2 separate regions of the Homo sapiens genome follow, and region 2 is linked to region 1. A link means that fine-mapping ties the variant in region 1 to the expression of a gene that starts in the linked region. Tissue or cell type: whole blood. Region 1 holds a variant in brackets; the other region holds the start of a gene. All regions are shown on one strand. Distances are between the middles of the regions.

Evidence for each region. PIP is the estimated chance that this variant, and not a neighbour inherited with it, causes the effect.
Region 2: it holds the start of ZNF366, and the variant in region 1 is fine-mapped to the expression of ZNF366 in whole blood (TOPMed, PIP 0.96).

The regions. Positions count from the first base shown.
Region 1 is chr5:72,373,086-72,379,163 of GRCh38, reverse strand. It overlaps the pseudogene RPL10AP8. Among named protein-coding and RNA genes, the nearest start is that of PTCD2, 56 kb to the right of the region's middle. The variant T/C (reference allele first, on the strand shown) is at 3,026.
Region 2 is chr5:72,504,837-72,510,914 of GRCh38, reverse strand. ZNF366 (zinc finger protein 366) reads left to right here and starts at 3,505. Exons shown (of 5, transcript NM_152625.3): 1 at 3,505-3,664.

The sequences.
Region 1 (6,078 bases):
CAGCCTATGGGAATGGCTGCCCTTTGGTCAGGTGACTACCCTTGCACCAATCAGATATGGGCAAAGAGGGGTTTCATCACATGGCAAATTACCTGGCAAATTAAACATCTGTTGGTGGGGCAATTTTTTTAGAAGTGGGAGAGGAATTGTAAGCATGTCTAATGCATCTGCTTTTTTTTTTTTTAATTAAGCTTCAAGTGCCGTGGAACTGAATCTGCTAATTGGCATCTTTTGTAAATTTCTTAGGAATTACAAAAAAAAATTGTTATTCAGGAACTCCTTCAACTGTCTAACAGTGAGTCATGGCAATGCTATAATTTCCCGTCCGTGAACTGCTTGGCTATTTTCCAAGTACTCCTATTGGGTTCCACTCCCCTGAGGCTGAAATTTCAGTGTGCCATTGGCAGAGAATGAGCCCTTATGCCCCGGCCTCTGAGCTTTGTCCTGAGAAGGTCTTATGATCTCTATATTCCTGACCTGGCCCATTCCTTTATGACACCTTTAATGAATAGAGGTGAATCTGCAACACTGAACATAAACCTTATGCTCACATGCAAACCTATGCTATGGCCCATATGATAGAAATTAGTTGATTTAGGAGCTTGGGTAGACATGCAGGAAAAAGGAGTTAACCTTTACTGAGCACCTACCATGAACCTGATGTGTATAGAGAATTTGGTGTATAGATGAGGAACCTGATGTTCAGAGAAGGTGAGACACCTGCCCAACAACACACAGCAAGCAGGTAGTAGAGCTAGAATTTAACCCAGATCTCTCTAATTCCAAATCACACTCTTTGCATCATATGTTGAAGTTGGTGGTTGAGAAGGGGTTAGAGGGAGATATTCCAGATGAAGAAAATGGAGACCATTACAGGTAAATATGTGGAGGTGGGTAAACAGAAAGTGGTGTGGGCACTGGAGTGACAGATTTCTGTTGGAATAGAGGGAGATTAAATGTCAGAGGCAGCCAGATTCTTGCACAATATAAAGGCCAGGCCAGGGCGTAACTGACATTTTTGGAGGCCTTGGGGAGTCACTGAAGGCAAGGCAAGGCATGACGTCTCCAAGGCAGCTGTTCAGATTAGAAGGATTAGCCTGGAGACAGGTGTCAGATGGATTGGGATAGGAAGAGACTCGAGGTGATTTAGGCACGCATAACTGTGGAGGGCCCCTGTAATCTCAGGGAATGTTTCACAGCTGGCTTCATTTTATTAAGCAAGGACCCTTTTTAGTCCCTCTCCCTCCTCATCTCTGTAATAGTCACGAGCTTAAAATTGCCTGTCCTCCACAGAAACTAAGTTTGCTGTACAGCATCACGTTTGATGAAGAGAAATTCTGTCAATTTTTTTGTAATAATTTCTATCTGAAGCCTCCGAATGCTGTGTTTTTGATTTTTAAAAACAGAACTACTCCAAAGGGTAGCGAGTACTGGGAAGCCGAGGCTGTGGTCTAAATTTCCCCTGAAAGTCTTAACCACGGGTGAGATTTTGTATGTGTATCAATCATACCATTTCCATCCTCATTCTCTGTTCCTGTCACTCCAAGTGTGAGAAGAGATAGATGATTAAGATAAAGTCCAGTTCCTAGGACTTTACCTTCTATTTCTCCTTTTTCTTTTCCAAAGTAAAATCACCATGAAATTACAAGACGTTGCAGGCAATTTGGCTAAGGTACTTGTGGATTTGCTTTGGGAAGAGTAAAAATCAGCAAATGCTTTCTTCCCCGCATTTTGCAGCTATTGAGGGTATTTATATAATTTGGGCATGGCTAACATAAAGAGTATTGGTGCTGAAACATATCTTTCCTTTACCAGAGATTAAGTATCAAGTTTGGCGATGAATTAGTTTGTCAGTTTTATTGGTGAAAAAACTGAAGTGGAGTTTAACCCCTGGACTCTGCGGGGCTCAGTAATCATGTAGGTGGAAATCCAGTGGATAAAAATGGCAGCAGGATCGTGGCACACCTGTAGTCCCGCCTACTTGGGAGGCTGAGGAGGAAGAATTGTTTGAGTCCAGGAGTTCGAGACCAGCCTGGGCAACGTAGCAAGACCCCCACCTCTACAAAAAATGTTAAAAAAAATCAGCCGGACATGGTGGCAGGTGCCTATAGTCCCAGCTACACAGGCAGCTGAGGCGGGCAGATCTCTTGAGCCCAGGAGTTTGAGTACAGCCTGGGCAACAGAGTACTTCTCTCTAACAAGAAAGAAAAATGGCAACAGGTTGATCTGTGTTTTCCTTTTGCCCTAGGCTAAATTTGGAGCCCCTCTTCCTTGACACACTTGAGGTAATAAAATTCACAGCTTTGACAAAACCACTGGAAGAGGTCCTTCAAGCAAAAGTTAAACTTGTGGTCTCCCCACCCAAGGAAACAGCAATACAACCAAAGCAGAAGCCTTAATTGGCTGCCCTCAATGTGGAGGGTATTGTGCTAGGAGAGAACTTAAATAACTTTTCCTTAAGAGTGTAGTGTCAGATAAATTGTTTACTATAATAGGAACAGTCTTCACTGAAGCAGAGGTGAGTTATTCTATTTAATAATTCCAAGAGCACACTCTTTACCCAGTGCTTTCTCTGCTGAGTCTGAAAAATCAACTCACTGCATTCTTTAGTGCTTAAAGCACAGGTCATTAGACTCACTACACCCAGGGACTCAATGAAATGGCTACCATTTTCAGGGGACTGTGAAGATGTCAAGATGTGAAAGCAACCTCTGGCTACCAAATCAAGGGGCTTTGCTGTGAGGCCTGGGTCAGGCCAGATGCTGGGTGATTCTCAAACCAACACCTTCGAATGGTCTACTGGTTAGGATCACCATGTCCCCTCATGGTCCCATCACAGCTGGATTGGGCGGACCTATGGGGTACTAGAGTTGTAGGTAGGAATGGTGAGAAATCGTTCAAACAGAATGGAATTGGTCAAGGCCAGATTTGTGCACAGTCCTATTTGGTATCCAGTTCAAATCCAAGGAGGTCATCATGGTGGGGTCTCGTCTATATATTTGCACCTCTGGGAATTTGGGGGAGC[T/C]AAGGCAGACTGTCCATAATAGAACTAATGACTATTGGTGTTTAAAGTCCTTGGGAAAAAATAGTGGGAACTTTGGGATTCTTGAACAAAGAAAGGAGGCGTGGCCTGTGTCAACTACTCAGAAGGAAGGAGTGCCCCAAGCAGGCAGAGAATTCATCTTCTGAGGTGAAGGAGGGACATAGTTCATATTCCCCATATTGAGACACCTTTTTTTCCTAGTCAAGGGATGCTTTTGTGTATGACAAAGAGCTGTCTTTCTGCCCAGGGCACTTGTAGATTCCTACATTGAGGTTGTCTCAAGGGGCCTTAAAAGTCTGTGGTCACTTAAGGGTCAGACAATTGAAAGTTACCTGAAGGAATTGTATTTGCTTGGGGTGGGGCTGAGATCCAATACCTTTAGTTTTGACAGGAACAGAGCAGATCAGGGACTGCAGGAGAACTGAGGACAGGAGGAAAGAATGACAGCAATTGTTGAGAAATGGAACACCCCAGAAGCAGCGGCCAAAACTCTAGGGAGATAGCAAGGATCGCTGGGGAATGCACGGGACTGGGGGTTTGGAGTTACAGTAACACAACTGTGTGAGAACTTGAAGCCAAATGTCTCTGTGCCCATCACCCAAGCTGTGAATATCGCCAAGGCATGTGTAGCCTGAAAAACCAAGGGTTTCTCTCAAAACTTTGTCAAATATTGGCTACTTTAAAAATGTTACCATTTTCATCAGTTTTGTGATGTGAAAGGCTTGGGAAGGTGGATTCATGCCAGGGATTCATGTGGACAGTTTGCCAGCTGCTGGGGGTGAGGAACAGAGAAGGGACCCCAAGATTAGCTCTTGGGGCAAGACTTGTCCCTCTATGTTAAGAGATGACCTACATACAGGACACAAGTAAGAGGAGATTATCTGACTTGGTGTCCTGTGATATTCTCTGAAAGTTTGTCTGATGTGGCAGATAGCACCAAGATGACAGACATTCTCACCTTCCTCAGGTCAGGTGAGGATCTGAAAATACTAAGTTGCTGAGAATGTCCTCTTTAGTTACCTCTTCATATCTGGGGAAGGGGAAGTCCTGATTTGGTTAAACCAGTCATCTTGCCCTGTAGCCCCTGTGAACAGAGATCAGTCAAGAACCGGAACTGACCATGTAGGAGGTGACTCCATTGATATTTGTACAGCCATTTACAATAAGCATGTATTAATTACGTATTTCTCCGTAACAAGTTACCCCCCAAATTTTGCAGCTTAAATCCACAATAAACATTTATCTCATATAGTCCCTATAAGTCAAGATTTCAGGAGTGGCTTAACTGGCTCTCTTGAAGTTGCAGTCAAGAAATCGCCAGGACTGCAGTCATCTGAAAGCTTGACTGGGGCTGGAGAATCAGTCTACAAGATGGCTCACTTGGATGATCACCTCATGCTGGCAAGAAGCCCAGCTCCTCACCATCTGGACTTCTCCATAGGGCTGCTGAAGTGTCCTCACAACATGGTGTCTGGTGTCTGGCTCTCCCCAGATCAAGTGATCCAAAAGAGAGCAAGACAGAAGCCTCAGTAATTTTTGCAACCTAGTCTCAGAAGTCACACTCAGGCAATTCTCCAATATCTTATTGGTCACATAGATCAGTCCTATTCAGTGTAGGAGGGGACTATATACAAGGGCATGAATACCAGGAGGTCAGAGTCACTGGGCCCACCTCGGAGACTGGCCACCAAAAATAGCCACTACCTATCAAGAGCTTACTGTGAGACAGGCACCTTGCCAATAACCTTACATACAGTAATCCTTCAGAGTTATTGTTTTCTTACTCTCCTCATTTCTACAGATGAGGACACTGAAGCCTAGAGAGGGTACATGACTTCCCAAGGATTTTCCATGCTGAGCTTGCCTTTGGTTTGCACCTCTAAGGAATAAAGTTCAGGTCATATTTTCATTCAGCACACAGACATTGAGTGTCTACTATGAGACAAGCACCGTGTTAGGCTCAAGAATATGAGTAACAGCCAGACCCAAGCCCTGAGGTATGTGAAAAAGTTACAGGCACAAAAATGGCCCTGTGTTTAAGGTATAATCTGGCTCTACAGAGGAAGTCGCCAATTATTTGAGGATAGGAATAGGTCAGAAAAGTCTTATTGTATGGGTGGTACTTGAGGTAAGTCTTAAGGGGTCAGGAACATTCTCAAGTGGGAATGTGCCAGAACTTCAGGCCTGGAGTAGGAGCGGGGAGTTCTGAGTGATTCCTACAGAGCACGTGGGAATCTCCCATCTTCATCTTCTAGCTTTTGGTCTGTGTTTGGTGAAGCCAGATGACACTTTATCGTATGGCCAGCCTAATGGAGCTGGGGGTAGGTGTGGGTGGGGCTAGAACCAGGAGACTCAGGTTTTATGTGCTGTTTTCCCATCCACCCCCTGTATGATCTCTGGCAAATTCTTAGCTTACCTATGCTTTGGTTCTGGCTTCTGTTAAATGAGAATAAAACAATCTTTCCTCACATTGCGGAGGGGGAGGAGCTGGAAGCATGGTTGTGACGATGTCAAATGCAACTGAAAAATTTAAAGCTCTCCTTTCTACATGATCTGAAGTCAGAGCTACTTCCACTGCAACACACTTCTTCTCTGCCACCCCACTCTGCCTGCACCGTACAGACACAGAAGGGCTATAACTTAAAATTTTGTTTTCAGTTACTTTTAGCCAAGGGAAAAGAGTCAACAGCTCCTGAGGATGTTTGGTACACTAGGCTCCCTCTGAAAAAATGTGCAAGCACTTCAGTTGTCCATCTAAAATTGTTACTGAAAAAGTTGGGTGATGGGAGAAGAGAAAGAAGTCTGCTGTTTGCAACTGTGCCATCGTCATCTGTGCTTTGTGCAGCTCTTTCAGGACAACTATCAGGTGGATGACACTACGATTCTTACAGTTGCCATGCATTTCGTTCTCTGAGAAGTCAAGCACATTCTTTTTTTTTTTGATGCAATAATGCTGCAACTTATTATTTTTATTGCAGAAGCAACTAAGCAATATTTTTCCTGTGAACAGCACTCTCATGTATATGTAAACCACA
Region 2 (6,078 bases), 130 kb before region 1:
CTCCAAAGGCATGGCCGTGTCCTCAAATCAAAGTCATTTGATTTCTTTTTTTAAATCTATGCTATGCATCCCCTTTGAGAGGAAGTGAGTGCCAAAGGATACCAAACAGAAAGACTGAGTCACTGGAGTGGCCAATCTTCCTGGAGAGAGATGAGTCCTGCATCAGGCTTCTAAAAAGACATCTGGCAGGGACAAGAATATTCCTGGCAGCCCATTTGTAATGGCTCCAAACTAGAAACAATCCAATGTCTGTGTTAAGTAGAACAGACATCTAAATGGTGGTATATTCACAGAATGAAACCCTATCCAGCAATGAGAGCGAATGAGCCACAGCTACACTCAACAATAGGGACGAATCCCATGAATATACTATCGAGGCAAAGAAACCAAATGAAGTGCAAGCCAATGCCATTTTCATGTAAATTCAAAACCAGGTAATGTGCATCCATGTCAGGTGCTGGAAGTCAGGGCACCTGAGAGGAGGTAGTGACAGGAGGGGCTTGGGGGGCCTCTGTCCTCTTTCTTAATCTGAGGGCTGGCTACTCAGATATGTTCCTTTTGTGAAGTTCCCTGACCGGTACACTTACGTTTTGTGTACTTTTCTGAAGAATATGTTCTATTCCAAACCTTTCTCCATTTTCTCCTACGCTGCTACCTCCATGACCTGAAGTCAAGTTAGTCTGGGAGTCAACAGATAACCCCAGAGTCTGTGTCATTGGAAGCTGGTGCCATACAAATTAGGACGCTTCAGAGGCAGGACGCCATTTTGAGTAGAGCACCTATTTCTGTGGTGCTGGTTCTGAGGGTTAGGGTCACAGCACTGTCCTCACCTAGGTTTCTCTCCTGTCCTCCTATCTCGTCCCAGGGGTGGGCAGCTCCTCTCTCTACTCAAGTGATCTCTATGATACGCTGTGCAACATGGGGCTTTCCTGAGGGGTGAGAGCCAAGGCCATATGCCATTCCTGCTCATGCGTCTCAGTTGGATCCTTCACTTTTAGTCAGGATCCAGATAGGCCAGGACAGAGTTAGAGCTCCAGTGGACTGATCAGAAATCTGTCCTGCCAAACCTAATGGGAGGGTTAGGAATTTCTGCTCCTGACACCCAGTGGGTGGTTTCACAAGTTTTAGAGGGTGACTGTTCAGGTGACTGGCAGCACAAGGAAAGAGGGAAAAGCCTTTTCTGTGAATTTCACAGGCAGGGTTGCAACGCGGTGTGAGCATGGAGCAGCTTGGCACAAGGCAGCCTTGAGAGTCCCCTGGCTGGCTGCGGGGATGATGTCAGATCCCGACTGGATGCTGCCCCATTCAGTCAAAGCCGTGCAGCCTGAAATGGCACATGTCCCCATCCAGGCTGTCTGGGCGGGTCAGCTGGCCTGGAGACAACAACACAGCCTCAACGTGACAGTCCCCACATTCTGCAGACTTAAAAGGGAAATCCTTTGGATTCTGCCTGGACTCCTGGGGCTCAGCCCTGGCCTTGCCTTGAGGGTGCAAAGAGGAGTAAAAATATGGGAAGGCCTGTGTGCAGCTGCAATGGATTCTTCAAGTGATCAGAGGCGGTTTCCTGCCTGTGAGGAGTTGGTACCATGAGCGTCTTGTTCCTTGGGTCCCTCCTTTCCTCTGCTGCTGATGCCCCGCACACCTTGCCCCCTCCCTATTGCTTCTCCTCACCCCACCTCACTCCCAAGGACGTCTGCTTTTTTATTGTGAATTTCAGCTGCCTGCTTGTTTCACCTCCGGTTACTCAAAGGTTTGCCCCAGTGTTTCTCCCCCTTTAAAAGACTCCATTCCTAGGCCTTCCTGCTCCATTCCCTCATGCCCTTCCCTGGCTTTCTCAGATTTTCATTTTCATTTCCCTTCCCATTTCTACAAAGGCAGGATGTAGAGGAAGGCCAGCAGAGGGCAAAGAGCCCGAGAGCCGGGATCAGGAGACAGGAACGTGTTGGCGTGTGGCTCTAAGCGAACCAAAGAGACTGTCTCTGGTCATCCGTGTTCCCCACTGTTGGTGAGGCTGGGTCACCCAGGCCAGAACTCAGTGCCATGGGTTGTGCCAGTGTTGGTGCTGTGGCGGATGCAAGGAATGGGACTCTGCTCTGGCTTGTGCACACCTACCGAGTAACAAAATCTTCATGTCTCTCTCTGATACATGCACACATATTCAGATAACTAGATAGACAGGGAGATAGATAGATATATGGATAGATTAGATAGATAGATGATAGATAGATAGATAGATAGATAGATGATAGATAGACAGATAGATGATAGAAAAATATCTGTCAGAATAAAAACATAATCCTATAGGCCAATAAGGACTCAATCAAAATCTTACAGGGTCACTGAATCAGAATCATTCTTCCCCTGAACTCACTTTCATGACTCTTTGCAATCAGGTGTATCTGTCCACCCCATTTTTTTCACAGTTGGGTGAAATGAGGAAGTAGTGTAAGGCTGGTTTTTCTTTTGCTGCCACAAAGGTCTACATAACTGCTGGTTCCTGTTCACAGTGAAAATGGTCCTAACCAGATGAATAAGGGACACAAGAGACATAACACAAATCAGAGAAGTTAAAACCAAGCTTATTCCTAAGTGCAACTAGCCTAAGCAAGCTCATGCCTGCCTGCTGAAGCCCCAAGTCTTCTACCTTGATAAAGGTTACTCCCTCCATTTTAACTGCTCCTGCCTCCCCTATCTTTTTTCGAACACCATGGCTGATTTATCTAAACCCTATGCTGCTTCACAGTATTTTGAAAACAAATTAGAAATCTCCTTCCAGTTTTCCAGAGGTGATTAAATCCAAGACGCCTTAGGAATGTAGAGGATAGAATAATATAAACAACAGATCTGAGATAACCATGGCCGGCAGCAGTTGTGGTTAGTTGCTTCTTTTCCTTTTTCATCCATCAGTGATGGAAGCTGGATTGGGTCCACTGTATAAAGTTCGGTGGGCATAAATCTGCTATTTGATCCTGGAAAAACTCTAAGGATCTAGAGTCAGCGAGGAATTGCAGCAATGCTGGTGTTTCAAAGGGCCTAAGAAAAGCCAGGAGTCCTGGCTGCCCAGCCCCGACACTGTCTTACAGGCTGCAGGTTTACCTTGGTTAGCACAACAGGCCAAGCTCTCCCTTGCTCTAAGTCGACATGACATGATTTGTTCCCTTTCGGCTGTGTCAGTTCTGCAAACCAGATACCAGAGGCTGCAGGCTCAGGAGAGCCTGCCTGTCTGGAACACCGTTTGTTTGGACAGGACAGGCCACTAAGGCGTTTCATCTCTTTAAAGCTCCCAGGGCAGAGAACATATTTGAGGAATTCCTTTTTTCAAAGATTTTTTTTTTTTGCCCCTTCCAACATTTTGTTTAAGAGAAAATGAGATGTCTATCTTCTGTTTCCTTATTTTTTTTCAGGAAAGCAAAGGGTTGTTGACTTCCTCCCTCTCCCCTCCCTTCCTTCCTTCTTCCCGAAGGTACTCATCTGAGAAAAAGAGAACGAAGTATTGTTCCTGTTCTCTTTCTTAAGTCATTCGAAACACTGTCCCTGCGAGTTCTTTAAGTTCCCTGCAATCTGTACACAAGAGAAAGAGGGAGAGAGAGAGGGAGAGAGACAGAGAGAGCAGGGATCAGGTAAAGGAGTGGGGCTGCTGCAGCCATTCAGACCTCAGGAGCTGGTAAGTTACCCATGCAATCATTTCTGCTTCCTTTTCAAGGTTCCTGGGTGGATACTGCTGTGGGCATCTTCAACAGAAAATACCTTACTGGGAGTAGTCCTTAACCAAAGGGTATAAGTGATAGATGGCCCAGAATTTCAGCTAATACTTTTTTTTGGTAAGAGAATACTGATGCTTTGCAGAACTAAGGCTGGCAAAACTAGAAATAGAATTACATTGGGACTAAAGAGGACACTGCGTTAAATCTGAATTTTGGCACAGATCATGTGGCTGGGAGAACCAGGAGCCACTGGCGTGTGAGATGTGTCCCACTGGAGAATTTGCTCTTCCTCAGTACTGTGTCCTGGGAGCCTTATCAGGGTGTCTGTTAAGGACTGTGGTTTGCTCTGGGGTTTTTGTTAATACGTTACCTGGATTGAGGTGCCCTTCTCCTGTTCTTTTCTTTCCATTCAGCATCCCCCTAAAGGAGGATTGTTAATTGTTATATGATGGTTATTCTGCATCACTGAAGTAGAAGGGAAAGAGAGAAGGGAATGTCACTTGGAAATAGTTCTGCATGTGGGGAGCTTATGTGTTCAGGTTCCCCATGCGGGTTGAGTGTAAATTTATTATTCACTGTCAGTGGAAGATGTCATCTGCCACATGATAGAAGGCAAAGGTTTTGGGGCATATAGCTTTAGTTTTGGAAAACAATATGCAGCTAGAATGGGAGGATTAAGATGGATCATTTATGTCAGTAGGAGGGAAAAACTAAGTTACAGACGCAATTGAAAAGCATTCACCCAGTGCCTGGTTTTCCAAGCACCAAATAGGGCGTAGCAAGCTAGTCAAGCTAACATACACAACTAGTTTTTAAAAGTCTAACTTGCTTCAATTAGATTAGTCATAAAGGATAATGTTACCAGCACCTATCATCGCAAGCCATGAGGGAGCCGAAATCATGTTGTCAAAAATAGGTCAGCAAGGTCACTCCGAGAGACTCGTTATGTTTCCCAATATTAATACTTTAATTCAGAGAGATGCCGAATGGGTAAAAGCCAATGGCCAAGCATACTTTTTAAAAATATTCACTGCTATGAAATTTACTGATTGAAATCACCTGGGATGTGAAGAATAAGATAAAAATAGCTGGACTCTCATTTTAAAAATTAATTTGGCTAGACTATGCTTTAACCACATTCAAGTAATTAATCTTTATTCAAAATTGAACCATCATCTTACTAAGGATGAGAAAACATGACAGAACTAGACTGTGATGTAGCTTTTGTTCCATTAGTCAGACCTCTTTTTTCTTCTCCTTTTTTCAAGGATTTTCTTTAGGAGCATCATAAAACGAGCAATGTAAAGAGACGTGAATAGCGTTTGCCAGCTTGCGGATGCAAAATTATTCTAATAACAATTGAAAGTGTTTTACTGCTACCCTACCACCTCCCCTAACTACTCCATTTCCATAGATCTTCAGATCAAGAGGTAGCTGGAATAGATTGTCGAGGGCATTATTGCATCATTTATCAGCAACTGTGGCCCCAGAAGAAAACGCAGGTCTGCGATCTTGACTTGCTCCTTTCAGTTTCATTTCTCTTGATAATGTATTGAATTTTGTGCTCAACTAAAACAACATCACAGAACACATTCTAGTTTTGTTTACTGAGTAAAAGCATCAGATGCAACACAATAGGAAACAAATGACAGCAGAGTCATTTGTTAAAGACAAGGAAGGCAATTAAATTAAAGACAAGGAAAGCACAAGGTGGGTAGGCCAGTGGCTCAGAAAACAGCCCCACTGCTAGCATGACTATGGCTTGAGATTAAGAAGCTGAGGATATGCAGTTTTCTTTTAAAGAAAAAAGTGTATTCAATATTTCCATTTAAGTTGTTAAGTCATTGCTGTGAAAATATTTCTTGGATACTGGGGGAAATGAATTTTAGCTACCCGAAGAATAAAAGCCATCGACTAGTTTCATCGAAGTCACTACCACTCAATCTATCTTTACTCACTCACCGCCAAAGAGTGAGTTGGCATTTGTGGAAACTTCCAGTGTGTGATTATTTGGGGGTCATCAGAGGCTCTTTTGTGATATCATTGGGGGAATTCCAGTTTGAAGTGATCCAGAATTTGAGACACACAGTATTTTATTCGTTAATTTCTGCCAAAACTGTACACATAACTAAATTACAATTTCTTATACACATTTTAAATTATGTTAGGATGTGTGTCCTGTAGATCTGTGTGCTGGGATGTGAGTCAAATTAGAGTGAGTAGAGCACAGTCTCTGTTGTTGTACTACTTTTGGTTTGAATTTCAGCTTCGTTGCCTACTGTTTATGGGCCTCGGGGCAGGTACTTAACTGCTCTAAATCTCAGTGTCCCCAAATGTAAAATTGCGTCAACATAATGGAGTTGTGAGAATTAAA